2 separate regions of the Homo sapiens genome follow, and region 2 is linked to region 1. A link means that fine-mapping ties the variant in region 1 to the expression of a gene that starts in the linked region. Tissue or cell type: ovary. Region 1 holds a variant in brackets; the other region holds the start of a gene. All regions are shown on one strand. Distances are from middle to middle. Region 1 overlaps MIER2 (MIER family member 2). Region 2 holds the start of PLPP2 (phospholipid phosphatase 2).

Region 1 (5,362 bases):
TTGTTCACATCATCTGTATTCTCACTTAATTTTTTTGGCTGCTTGTTCTATTTACTGAAAGATTGTTAATGACCTCCTCTGATTGTGGATTGTCTATTTCCCCTTTTTAATGCTGTCCATTTTTACTTCACATTGTGTTAAGTGCATACACGTTAAGATTGCTTTGTCTTTGTGTTGAATTGTTTCTTTTACCATTGTGACGTGTCTCTCTGTAGTAACACTTCTTACCGTAAATAAGTACTTAATCTGCCATCAGTGTGACCACAGCAGCTTTTTGTTGATTTGTTTAGTGTTTGCATGGTTTTTTCCCATTCTTTTTTCCATTCTAGATTCCTATATTTGAAGTGTATTTTCTGTAAATGGCACATGTTTAGATCTTGTTTTTTGAGACGGAGTCTCTGGAGTGCATTGGCATAATATCCACTCACTGCAGCCTCCGCCTCCCGGGTTCAAGCAATTCTTCCCCCTCTGCCTCCCAAGTAGCTGCAATTACAGGCGTCCGCCACCATGCCCAGCTAAGTTTTGTATTTTTAGTAGAGATGGGGTTTCACCATGTTGGCCAGGCTGGTCTCAATCTCTAGACCTCAAGTGACCTGCCCACTTCGGCCTCCCAATGTGCTGGGATTATAGGTGTGAGCCACTGTGTCCGACCTAGATCTTATTTTTAATTGTCTGAGAAAACCATTGTCTTTTAATAGACTTTTTAGTCCATGTACATTTTTTAAATCACTTGTATGTCATGTAATTATAAAACAATTGTGTAATGCCACCATCTTGCTCTTTGCTTTCTGTGTGTTCCATCTGTTCTTTGTTTTTTGTTTGTTTGTTTTTTTTTTTTTTTTTGAGACAGAGTCTCACTCTCATTGCCCAGGCTGGAGTGCAGTGATGCGATCTTACTTCACGGCAACCTCCACCTCCCGGGTTCAAGTGATTCTCCTACCTTAGCCTCCCAAGTAGCTGGGATTACACGCATCCGCCACCATGCCTGGCTAATTTTGTATTTTTATTTTATTTATTTATTTATTTATTTATTTATTTATTTTTTCTGAGACAGAGTCTCGCTTTGTCACCCAGGTTGGAGTGCAGTGGCGCGATCTCAGCTCACTGCAAGCTCCGCCTCCCGGGTTCACGCCATTCTCCTGCTTCAGCCTCCTGAGTAGCTGGGACTACAGGCACCCGCCATGACTCCCGGCTAATGTTTTGTATTTTTAGTAGAGACGAGGTTTCACCGTGTTAGCCCGGGTGGTCTCGATCTCCTGACCTCGTGATCCGCCCGCCTCAGCCTCCCAAAGTGCTGGGATTACAGGTGCCCGCCACCGCGCCCGGCCTAATTTTGTATTTTTAGTAGAGATGGGTTGTCTCCATGTTGGCCAGGATGGTCTCGATCTCCTGACCTCGTGATCCGCCCACGTCGGCCTCCCAAAGTGCTGGGATTACAGGCGTGAGCCACTGGACCTGGCCTGTTGTTTGTTTTTTAATTTTTTTATATCTTCTTTTGGATTAATAGGTTTATTTTGTCCTTCTGTTTCAGCTTATAAGTTTTAGTTTTAGCGCTTTAGAGGTTACAACATGAATTATTGACTTATCACAGTCTACATTTTTTTTGAGATAGAGTCTTGTTCTGTCGCCCAGGCTGGAGTACAGTGGTGTGATCTCGGCTCATTGCAACCTCCGCCTCCTGGGCTCAAGCGATTCTCCTGCCTCAGCCTCCCAAGTAGGTGGGACTACAGGCACACGCCACCATCCCCAGCTAATTTTTGTATTTTTAGTAGGGATGAGGTGTCACTGTGTTGGCTATGCTGGTCTTGAACTCCTGACCTCCAGTGACCTCAGCCTCCCAAAGTGCTGACATTACAGGAGTGAGCCACCACACCGGGCCTCACAGCTTGAAATAAGTACATTCTAGTTCCCCTACAATGCAAGAAACAGTTTAACTCAATTTACCTGCCCCCTGCCTTTTGTGCTATCGTTAATTTTACATATGAGCCGGCTGTGGTGGCTCATGCCTATAATCCGAGCACTTTGGGAGGCCGAGGCAGGCAGATTGCCTGAGGTCAGGAATTTGAGACCAGCCTGGCCAACATGGTGAAACCCTGTGTCTACTAAAAATACAAAAATTAGCCAGGCGTGGTGGGCACCTGTAGTCCCAGCTACTCGGGAGGCTGAGGCAGGAGAATCGCTTGAACCC[C/T]GGAGATGGAGGTTGCAGTGAGCCAAGATCGCACCACTGCACTCCAGCCTGGGGGACAGAGCAAGACTCCATCTCCAAAAAAAAAAAATCTACATATCACAAGATGATAACATTGTTGTTTTAAACAGTGAACATTCTTTGTATTTATCCTATCCACATATTTCCTCCAGCTTCCATTTGGAATCATTTCCTTCAGCCGGAAGAACTTCCTTTGTAATAGGCCTTGTGCTTTCTTTCAGCATTTTTTTGTCTGAAAAGCCTGGATTTTTGCTTTCATTCTTTAAAGCATATTTTCATGGCATGTTTTTCCAGGTTTGCAGGGTGTTTTCTTTCAACACTTGAAAAATTTCACTCCATTGCGTTTTGGCTGTCATCGTTTCTGTTGAGAAGTCAGAGGACGGTCTTACTCTTTCTTCTGAAGTCATTGTGCCCTTTTCTCTCCTAAGAGTTGTTTCCTTTCCTTTATTTGTTTGTTTTTCACCAGTTTGGCTCTCCTGTGCCTGTGCACACGTCTTCGTGTGTCCTTGTATTCGTCCTGAGTTTCCTGGCTCTGTGGGTTGGTATCAGTCGTCAGTTTTGAAGAATTCTTGGCTGTTACCTCTTCAGATTTTGTGCTGCCTCCTTCTTTGCTTTCTCTGTCACTCATTTACACGTATCTTAGAGGTTGCCTCACTGTCTTGTACTACCCTAAACGGTGTTCTTTCCTTTTACACTTTGGTTTTGGTCTTGTAAACATTGGTTTCCTTTTGATTCCACTAATTGTGTTTTGTGCTGTGTTCAGGCTGCTGGTAAAAAAGCTGTTCAGTGGGTCCATTCGGGTATTGTATTATCCAGTCCTGGAAGGTCCTTGAGATTCTTTTCTATAAATTTCAAGTCTCTGCTGAGACTCTCCGGCGTTTTGTCCATTTCCTTAACGTATTAATCCTCGTTAGATTGAAGTCTTCGTGTGCTGACTCTTAACATCGGCTGTGTGTAGACCTGCTTTGTTGTCTGATGTGTTCTTGTTTTGTTTGTTTGTTTGAGACGGAGTCTCGCTCTTCTCGCCCAGGCTGGAGTGCAGTGGCGCGATCTTGGCTCACTGCAACCTCTGCCTCCCGGGTTCAAGTGATTCTCCTCCCTCAGCCTCCCGAGTAGCGGAGATTACAGGCGCCCATGACCACGCCCGGCTAATTTTTGTATTTTTAGTAGAGCTGGGGTTTCGCCATGTTTGCCAGGCTGGTCTCGAACTCCTGACCTCAGGTGACCCGCCCGCCTCAGCCTCCCAAAGTGCTGGGATGACAGGCGTGAGCCACCACGCCTGGCCTTGTTTTCTTGTTTTATTCTGAGACAGGGTCTTGCTCTGTTTCCCAGGCTGGAGTGCAGTGGTGCAATCATGGCTCATTGCAACCTCGACCTCCTGGGCTCAGTCCCACCTTAGCCTCAATCCCACCGTAGCTGGGACTACAGACGTGCCTGTACTACATTTGAAATTTTTTGTAGAGATGGAGTGTGCGAGTCTCAAACTCTGGCCTCAACCGATCCTCCCACCTCAGCCTCCCAGAGTGCTGGGATTACAGACATGAGCCCTCACATCCGGTTAATGTTTTTCCCTCGTGTTTTCCCACCCTTCACATGCTAGGCTGTATGTGGTGTTCTTTTTCTCCAGAGATGGTCTGCTGTTTTCTTGGAGACCACCTCTGTCCAAGCAGGGCTCAGGTGTCGCCTGTGGAGATGGAGAAAGGTGGCTGTGGTGTCTGCCTGTTTTCCTCATGGCCATGAGGACCGGGAGAGGCCCCTGCTTGGTGGGGCACAGCACCAACCTGGGAGCTAGTTACCGCGTCAGCCCCCGGCAGTGGAGACTCCCGTGTGGAGCTGTTTTCCCCAGTGCGTTTTTCACATTTCTTCCCGTGCACTGATTTTGTTTTTTATTTGTTGGTTTGCTTTGTTTGGGATCCTGTGCCTCTTTCCTGGATAATTGAGAGGTGCTGGCACTTGAGCCTTGCCAGACCTGGCCCTGAGCTCTCCCCTGCCTTGTCCCCAGTCACGTCCCTCACCACAGCTGGAGGCTGCGTCCCTCCCTTTGCCGAAAGCCAATTGCATCTGAGGTCGTGGACTTTTCCTCCCCTCTGTGAGCACATCTGCCATCCACACCAGCTACCGGGGGCAGGATGTCTCCCCAGAGGTGATGCACCTTCTGGCCGTGGCTCTTCAGCTCCCAGGGTTAGAGCGCGACAGTGCCTAACTGTGGGGGCTCCCGCTTGTCCACGGGCCCAAGTCTCAGCTGCCTTTATGCAGAGTCGGGGGCGTCCTTGCTGCTCCCTCAGGCCTCTGCATTTCAGGTGCCCTTGTAGCTGTGCAGCCTGAAGCCAGCCTCACCTCACTGGTCTCACTACTTAGAACCCCCTCTGCAGAGTCCTTGCTTAGAATTCCCCTGCCCCAGATCTAGGCTGTCCACAGCTTCCTCTGACCCCTTGGCTGGATCAGGCGCCCCTGCTGACTGCTCATGGCTCCCTGCACTTGGTCGTTGGGATACAGGCCTGTGTGTGGTGCCCAGAGCCTGCTCTGGACCCACTCGGTAGTTGAATTGAGCACAGCAGCACCAAGCCCAGGAGGAGCACAGGGATGGCGGCCCAGGGCTTGGGAAAGGGAGGACGGACAGTGCCTCCTCCCTGTCAGGGGCTGAGTTGGCTGCTTTGCTTGTCCTGGCGTGTGTGGGTGCAGATTGGGTTCCTGCAAGCTGACCTTTGCCCTCTGCTTGTGCAGTCTACGAGAACGAAGACCAGCTGCTCTGGGACCCCAGCGTCCTCCCTGAGAGGGAGGTGGAGGAGTTCCTGTACAGGGCGGTGAAGCGGCGTTGGCACGAGATGGCCGGGCCTCAGCTCCCAGAGGGAGAAGCCGTGAAAGACAGTGAGCAGGTGGGGGCTGCCATGCCGGGGACAGAGGGGCTGAGGGCTGCCGTGGCGTGGGCCAGAGCTCACACCCCAGTGCCTCCAGGGGCCAGGGAGGGCAGAGGGGAGGGCAGGGGTCAGGTGTGTGGGGGCCAGGGCACTGGAACAGCTACTCAGGTCAGAAGGGGGGCCAATTAAAACCACGTATCAGGGAGGAGGTGTAGACGCCTCCGGGTATCCTGCAAGGGGATGTAGACACCCCTGATGTCACTCCCTGGATAGAGGTGTAGGTGGCCCTGACATCGCC
Region 2 (5,362 bases), 24 kb after region 1:
CGCGAGGGGCTCTGGCGACCACGTCCAGCACTACTGCTGTGTGTTTTTCTTTGCTGTGACCCAGTGAAGACCTCCTCACAGACAGAGCACAGCAGACTCGCGGTGCTGAAACCCGGAGGGTTACCCTGTCCCTGACTGACTGTAAGGTTACACTAAATTAAGAGGCACTCCAAGGATTGCAAAGTCCGAGGGGAATTTTGAATTCGTGGGTCCTGGATTGTGAATTTGAAGGCAGCGGTTTCCAACCCTTTTAAATCTTGACCCCAGGAAGAAGTACCTTCTACATCTTGACCCAGCAAACACGTGATACCTACCCACACTGTATTTTGTTCAATTAACCCTCAAATGATGTTTCCTAATGTTTGGCCCTGGGTCAAGCATTTCACAAACTATTTAATCTTCTCTACAATCCCAGGTGGTAGCTACTGTCTTGCCGCCTTTATGCAGACAGAGACTGAGGGATACCTTAGATGTCTTTCCAAACCATCCACCCCCTCAGCCTTCCCTGCCCACTGCCTGCACGTCAAACCCACTGACGGGCACTCGTTCGACTCCAAGAGCCCCGTGCCAGGAACCTGGGAGACAACTCCCGTTTTGACTCTGGGCAAGGTACTTCACCTCTCAAGTCCCAGAGAAGCAGAGAAAGCAACGGCAGGTATAGTGGCTGGCTGCACTTAGGTGGCACCTACTGTGTGCCAGGCCCCCTTCTGCCCACTTCACAGGTGTCTTAGTCTCCATAGAGTCCATTTGGAAACAGGCCCGGAGCCATCCAGGTTGCGATGAGGCACCAAGGTGGCAGAGCCAGTGCTGGGCAAGAGGCGGGAGCTGCAGTTGCTGAACCCGTGAGCTTGCTTGCCTGGGAGTGGCGACCTGGCCCTCAGGGGTTGCTTGTCTCTAGGGGACCCAGCCTGGGTACATGTACCACCACCCGCTTCCAGCTCTGCTATTTGCAGGTGAAGGAGAAAGCCACTGAGGCCTGGCCTCCAGGCCAGGCTCTGTCCCTGCTGGGAGCTGCCCTGGCCTCAGGTTCTTCCTGGAAGGGAGGACCAGGCAGCTGGGGGCAGCAGCAGATCCAGCTATGAAAGCCGTGACAAGAAGTTCCTTGAAGTGTGGTGGGCTGCAGTCAGCATATGTAGGAGACGACCCCAATCCTGACCCTAATCCTAATTCTTGCTTTCCCCACCAGATTTTAATCCTTATCCTGCCCAGGGATTTTAAGGGCTAACCCAAATCCTGACCCAAGGGGAAGGATGGAAGGGGGAACAGCCTGCAGCCTCACCTCCACCCTCTATCCTCCCAGGTCTACCTCCACCCCTCTCCTGGGTCTCTCCCTCTTGGCTTGGCCCCATCCCACAGCCCCCACTGTCTTCCCCCCGCTCCCACTTTGGCAGGCCCCTCCAAGTGACCTCTCCCTTGCTCCCCAGCACACAGTAGGTGCTCAATGAAGAACACCGCCTTTCCTTGACTCCAGTAGATGTTGCACCCTCTCCATCTTAGGAGAAAATGTGCGTTGGCTGTCAAGACTACACTGACAGCAGTGGTCACTCATTTGCAGACAGGGTGAAGTGTGGGGGAAAGCGCAGTAGTGACGCTGAACCCTACATTTATGTAGCATTGATGCTAGGCACCAGAACCCTCACAATCCTAATTCCGACGGGAGCTAGAGCCCCCCCACCCCACCGTGAGTGCAGCAAGGGAGCACCTCAACCCTGCCCTTGGAGGGCCACAGGTCAGCTTGCACCGTCTTCCCACCCAGCACCACTCTGGGTGCCTTTGCTGTCTCCCAAGAGCCCCTTGCCCTTGGAGTTCCCTCATGATGCCCCCCTGCCCCACGTGCAGGTGTCTGACCATCCGGGAAGCAGGGTCGAGGAGCTCCCAGTTGAAGTCCAGTTGCTGAGACGCACCCTGTTTTGGTGTTGCTGGGGCAGGGGGCTGATGGTGGTGCTGAACGGGTTTTAGAGGAGGGTCAGGGTGGCAGCGGATCTGGGGCCCAGCAGCCTTGTTTCTGACCCCAGGCCTGCCACTTCCCATTTAAGTGACCGTGAGTGGCAGAGGTCAAGGCTGGACTCCGGAAACGTGGGTCTGACACTCCTGAGGCCTCCCGGATGGTCCCAGCCGAAAGGACCCAGTGTGGGTCCCTTGGGCCTGGGTTTCCCTGGCTCAGGTGCCCTCAATCCCCAGGCACCCTCAGCTCAGGGCTCCCCACGACCTGGTGGGGGCACAGACCCCGGCGCCATTTCATGGGGTTCCCAGCTCCTGGCGCCCCCGTGCTCTTCTGTGAAATGGGACAGCAAGTGCGCTGATAGGAACGGTGCCTGGGCACAGGGCTGCGCCTGGACACCCTACGCCGTCGCAAGGTGGGTGCCGAGGAACTCGAGCTTCTAACGTGCCAGGGGTCCAAGGACGCGCCAGGATTTTGAGTATTAGGAGAAAAGAAACTCCTGAAATGAAGCCACGTCGCCCCTTCCACTTTAAGGTGCCTCCTGCTGTCGGAGTTTCCAGGCGCACACGGCGCGGCTGCCACTCCCTGAGGAGGAAAGTCGGGAACCGTCCCGCGGGGCCGGTCCCGCCGCTGCTCGTCCTCCTTCTCCACGTCCCCGCCCGGGGCTCCGCCGGCCCGACCCGCGGGGAACCTCCAGCCTCTGAGGACCTCACGCCGCTCGGAGACCCGCACAGCCCGGGTCAGGGCCGGGACTCCGGGCGGACGAGGTCCCCGTGGCGCCCGCACGCTCGCCCCACCCGCTCTTTTGGGCGCCGCGGCCAGGCGGGGGCAGAGTCCGCGCGGTCCCGGGTCCGCCGCGCCCCGCCCCCCCCGCTGCTCCCCTGCCCGCCGCTGCCGTCCCCCCTCCCTCCTCCCCTCCCCCCCTTCTTCCCTTCCCTCCCCCTCCCCCCTCCCCTCCCCGCCCCTAGCCCTCCCCTCCTCCCCTCCCCCTCCCTCCTCCCCTCCCCGCCCCTAACCCTCCCTCCTCCCCTCCCCTCCCCTCCTCACCTCTCCCCTCGTGCCCTCCCCGCCCCTCCCCTCCTCCCCTTCCCGCCCCTCCCCTCCTCTCCGCGCGGGGCGGGCTCCGCGCCACGTGACTCCGCGGCCGGGCCGGGACGCGACGGGACGCGCTGGGACCGGCGTCGGGGGTCGCGGGGACCATGCAGCGGAGGTGGGTCTTCGTGCTGCTCGACGTGCTGTGCTTACTGGTCGGTAAGAGCCTTGGGGACCCGGGTGTTGGGGGGACCCTCCCGGGACGGACACGCCCCCGGCTGCGCGCAAGTTTGCAGGGGAACGCGGAGGCTGCGCGCCCTCGTCCCTCCGAGGACCCTGGAGGCGGGGACCTCGCGTGAGGACCAGACCTCCCTCCGCGCCCCGCACTGCGCGCGCCCTCCCAGGCTCGGGGGTCCCCGCGTCCCAGGCCCAGGGGGATGGGGGTCGCGAGAGGCCCGGGGAGCCGGGGCCAGCATCCCCCGCCCCGGCAGCAGGAAGTCTGTGCGGAGGGGCCGCGCGCGCGCCTCCATCCCGCCCCGCCTGGCCTGGGAGGTGAGTCACGCGGGCCCGGGAGGTGGGGGCGGCCGCGGGTTACCCCGGCAGGACGTCCGCGCCTCCGCCCCTGGGGTGGGCGCTCCCGCTGCGCGCGGAGAGGGCTGACCCTCGGTCCTGGCACCCGGTGCGTCGGCGGGATTCGAACCCGTGCACGTGCGGGGAGGCCCAGCCGCCCTGCTGGCTCGGGCGGGGGAGACACTGGGGATGAAGGCTGGGTCCCAGGCTTCGGGTGAACGGGGTGGCGGGGGGCCGGGAGGCCAGGAGAACCAAACCTGTCCGGCGGGTTTGCGGGCCACACTGGCGGAATGGGCATCCCGAGGCCCCCCTCCCGCAGGGTCCCGGGAACAAAGGCCGAGTGTTTGCTCTGTGGCTGCACAGACAATGGCCCTGGAATTCTATCTCTGGGGGGTGCCCTCCTCCCCAACGTGTTTCCTGCTTCTCTGCCATCTCACAGCAGAGGCCAAGTCCTCTTACCTCCGGAAGGAGACCCTTTTTTAGGGTGGGCCAGGTGACAGCAAGAAGTCCCTGTGGGTGTCTGCCAGCCCGTGGTACCATTTCCTGAGCACCTATGGTGTTATTTATGTAAACATTTAGGTGGCACTTTCTGTATGCCAGGAACTAAGCAACATGCAAATAACAAACATTTCCCTTACAACAGCCTGTGAGGGAGGTGCTGAGTCACCTGCCGGAGGTCACACAGCAGCGGGAGGTACAGCCGAGATGGGGTTGGCTGTTGCTGCTGTGTGCCAGGGGTGGTGGCCAGGCCGAGTGCACCTCTATGCTGGAAGCTTGAGCACACCACAGTTCAGTCAACACTGAGGTTCCAGATGCTGGCATGAGGGCAGTGTGAGGGCGGGAGGGCTCCCGGGGGCTAAATGAAGAGAAGGTGTCTGTTTTGGGGACCCCAGGGAGAGCTTTCCAGGCCGAGGGAAGCCCGGCGCCTGTCGTTATGGGGGTGCCTGCGTCTCTAGTTGGAGTTGCTGGGGCAGGGAGGTCGGAAACGGAGGCTAACCTGTGTGAGCCTCCGCCCGATAAGAGCTGTGGTCGGGCTGCACTCCCTTCTGGGCATCTCGTAACCCTGACTTTCCACCCGGCCGGCAACTGCAGGAGCCTCCTCCAAGGCCTCTCCCTTCACAGCAGCTCCAGCCCCTCCTGTGTGGGAGCAGAAGGCAGGTTCTTACATCCCGCCCTCTCCGCCGTCCTGCCCTGCCTCCAGGCCCTGGCGCTGCCCTTTTTTTTTCTTTCTTGAGACAGAGTCTCGCCCTGTCGCCAGGCTGGTGTGCAGTGGTGCAATCTCGGCTCACTGCAACCTCTGCCTCCTGAGTTCAAACGATTCTCCTGCCTCAGCCTCCCGAGGAGCTGGGACACCGCCACACCCAGATAATTTTTGTATTTTTAGTAGAGTTGGGGTTTCACCGTGTTAGCCAGGATGGTCTCGATCTCCTGACCTCGTGATCTGCCCGCCTCGGCCTCCCAAAGTGCTGAGCCACCACGCCGGGCCTGCCCATTCTGTTCTGCATTCCCTCACCTTTCTTGCTCGGTGAGGCAGGCCTCTGTTTTCTTCACCAGATTATTTCCCCAGACTTAGCCAGCATGGAAGGTGTACGGTGTCCTAGGGCCCTTGGAGTTAGCATGTCGGGAGGAGTGTGGGGCTCCCTGCCCCTCCGCTGACATTCAGAACTTAGAAAAGCCACACCCTTTTGTACTTGCCCTGCTGGGCCAAAGGATGCCCTGCCTTGGTTTGTCTCTGGGCTAGCCGACCCGGGCTTTTGTTGTGCGCCTGCCCTCTGCCCCGTTCTCCGTAGATGACTCCTGCTTCCCTGGCCACCCTCA

Evidence for each region. PIP is the estimated chance that this variant, and not a neighbour inherited with it, causes the effect.
Region 2: it holds the start of PLPP2, and the variant in region 1 is fine-mapped to the expression of PLPP2 in ovary (GTEx, PIP above 0.99).

The regions. Positions count from the first base shown.
Region 1 is chr19:313,212-318,573 of GRCh38, reverse strand. It overlaps MIER2 (MIER family member 2), which reads left to right. Exons shown (of 14, transcript NM_017550.3): 8 at 4,931-5,082. Among named protein-coding and RNA genes, the nearest start is that of PLPP2, 24 kb to the right of the region's middle. The variant C/T (reference allele first, on the strand shown) is at 2,189.
Region 2 is chr19:289,116-294,477 of GRCh38, reverse strand. It overlaps PLPP2 (phospholipid phosphatase 2), which reads left to right and starts at 3,075. Exons shown (of 6, transcript NM_003712.4): 1 at 3,075-3,193. The coding sequence starts at 3,142. RefSeq lists enhancers at 1-481, 3,181-3,878, 3,909-4,422, 3,879-4,577.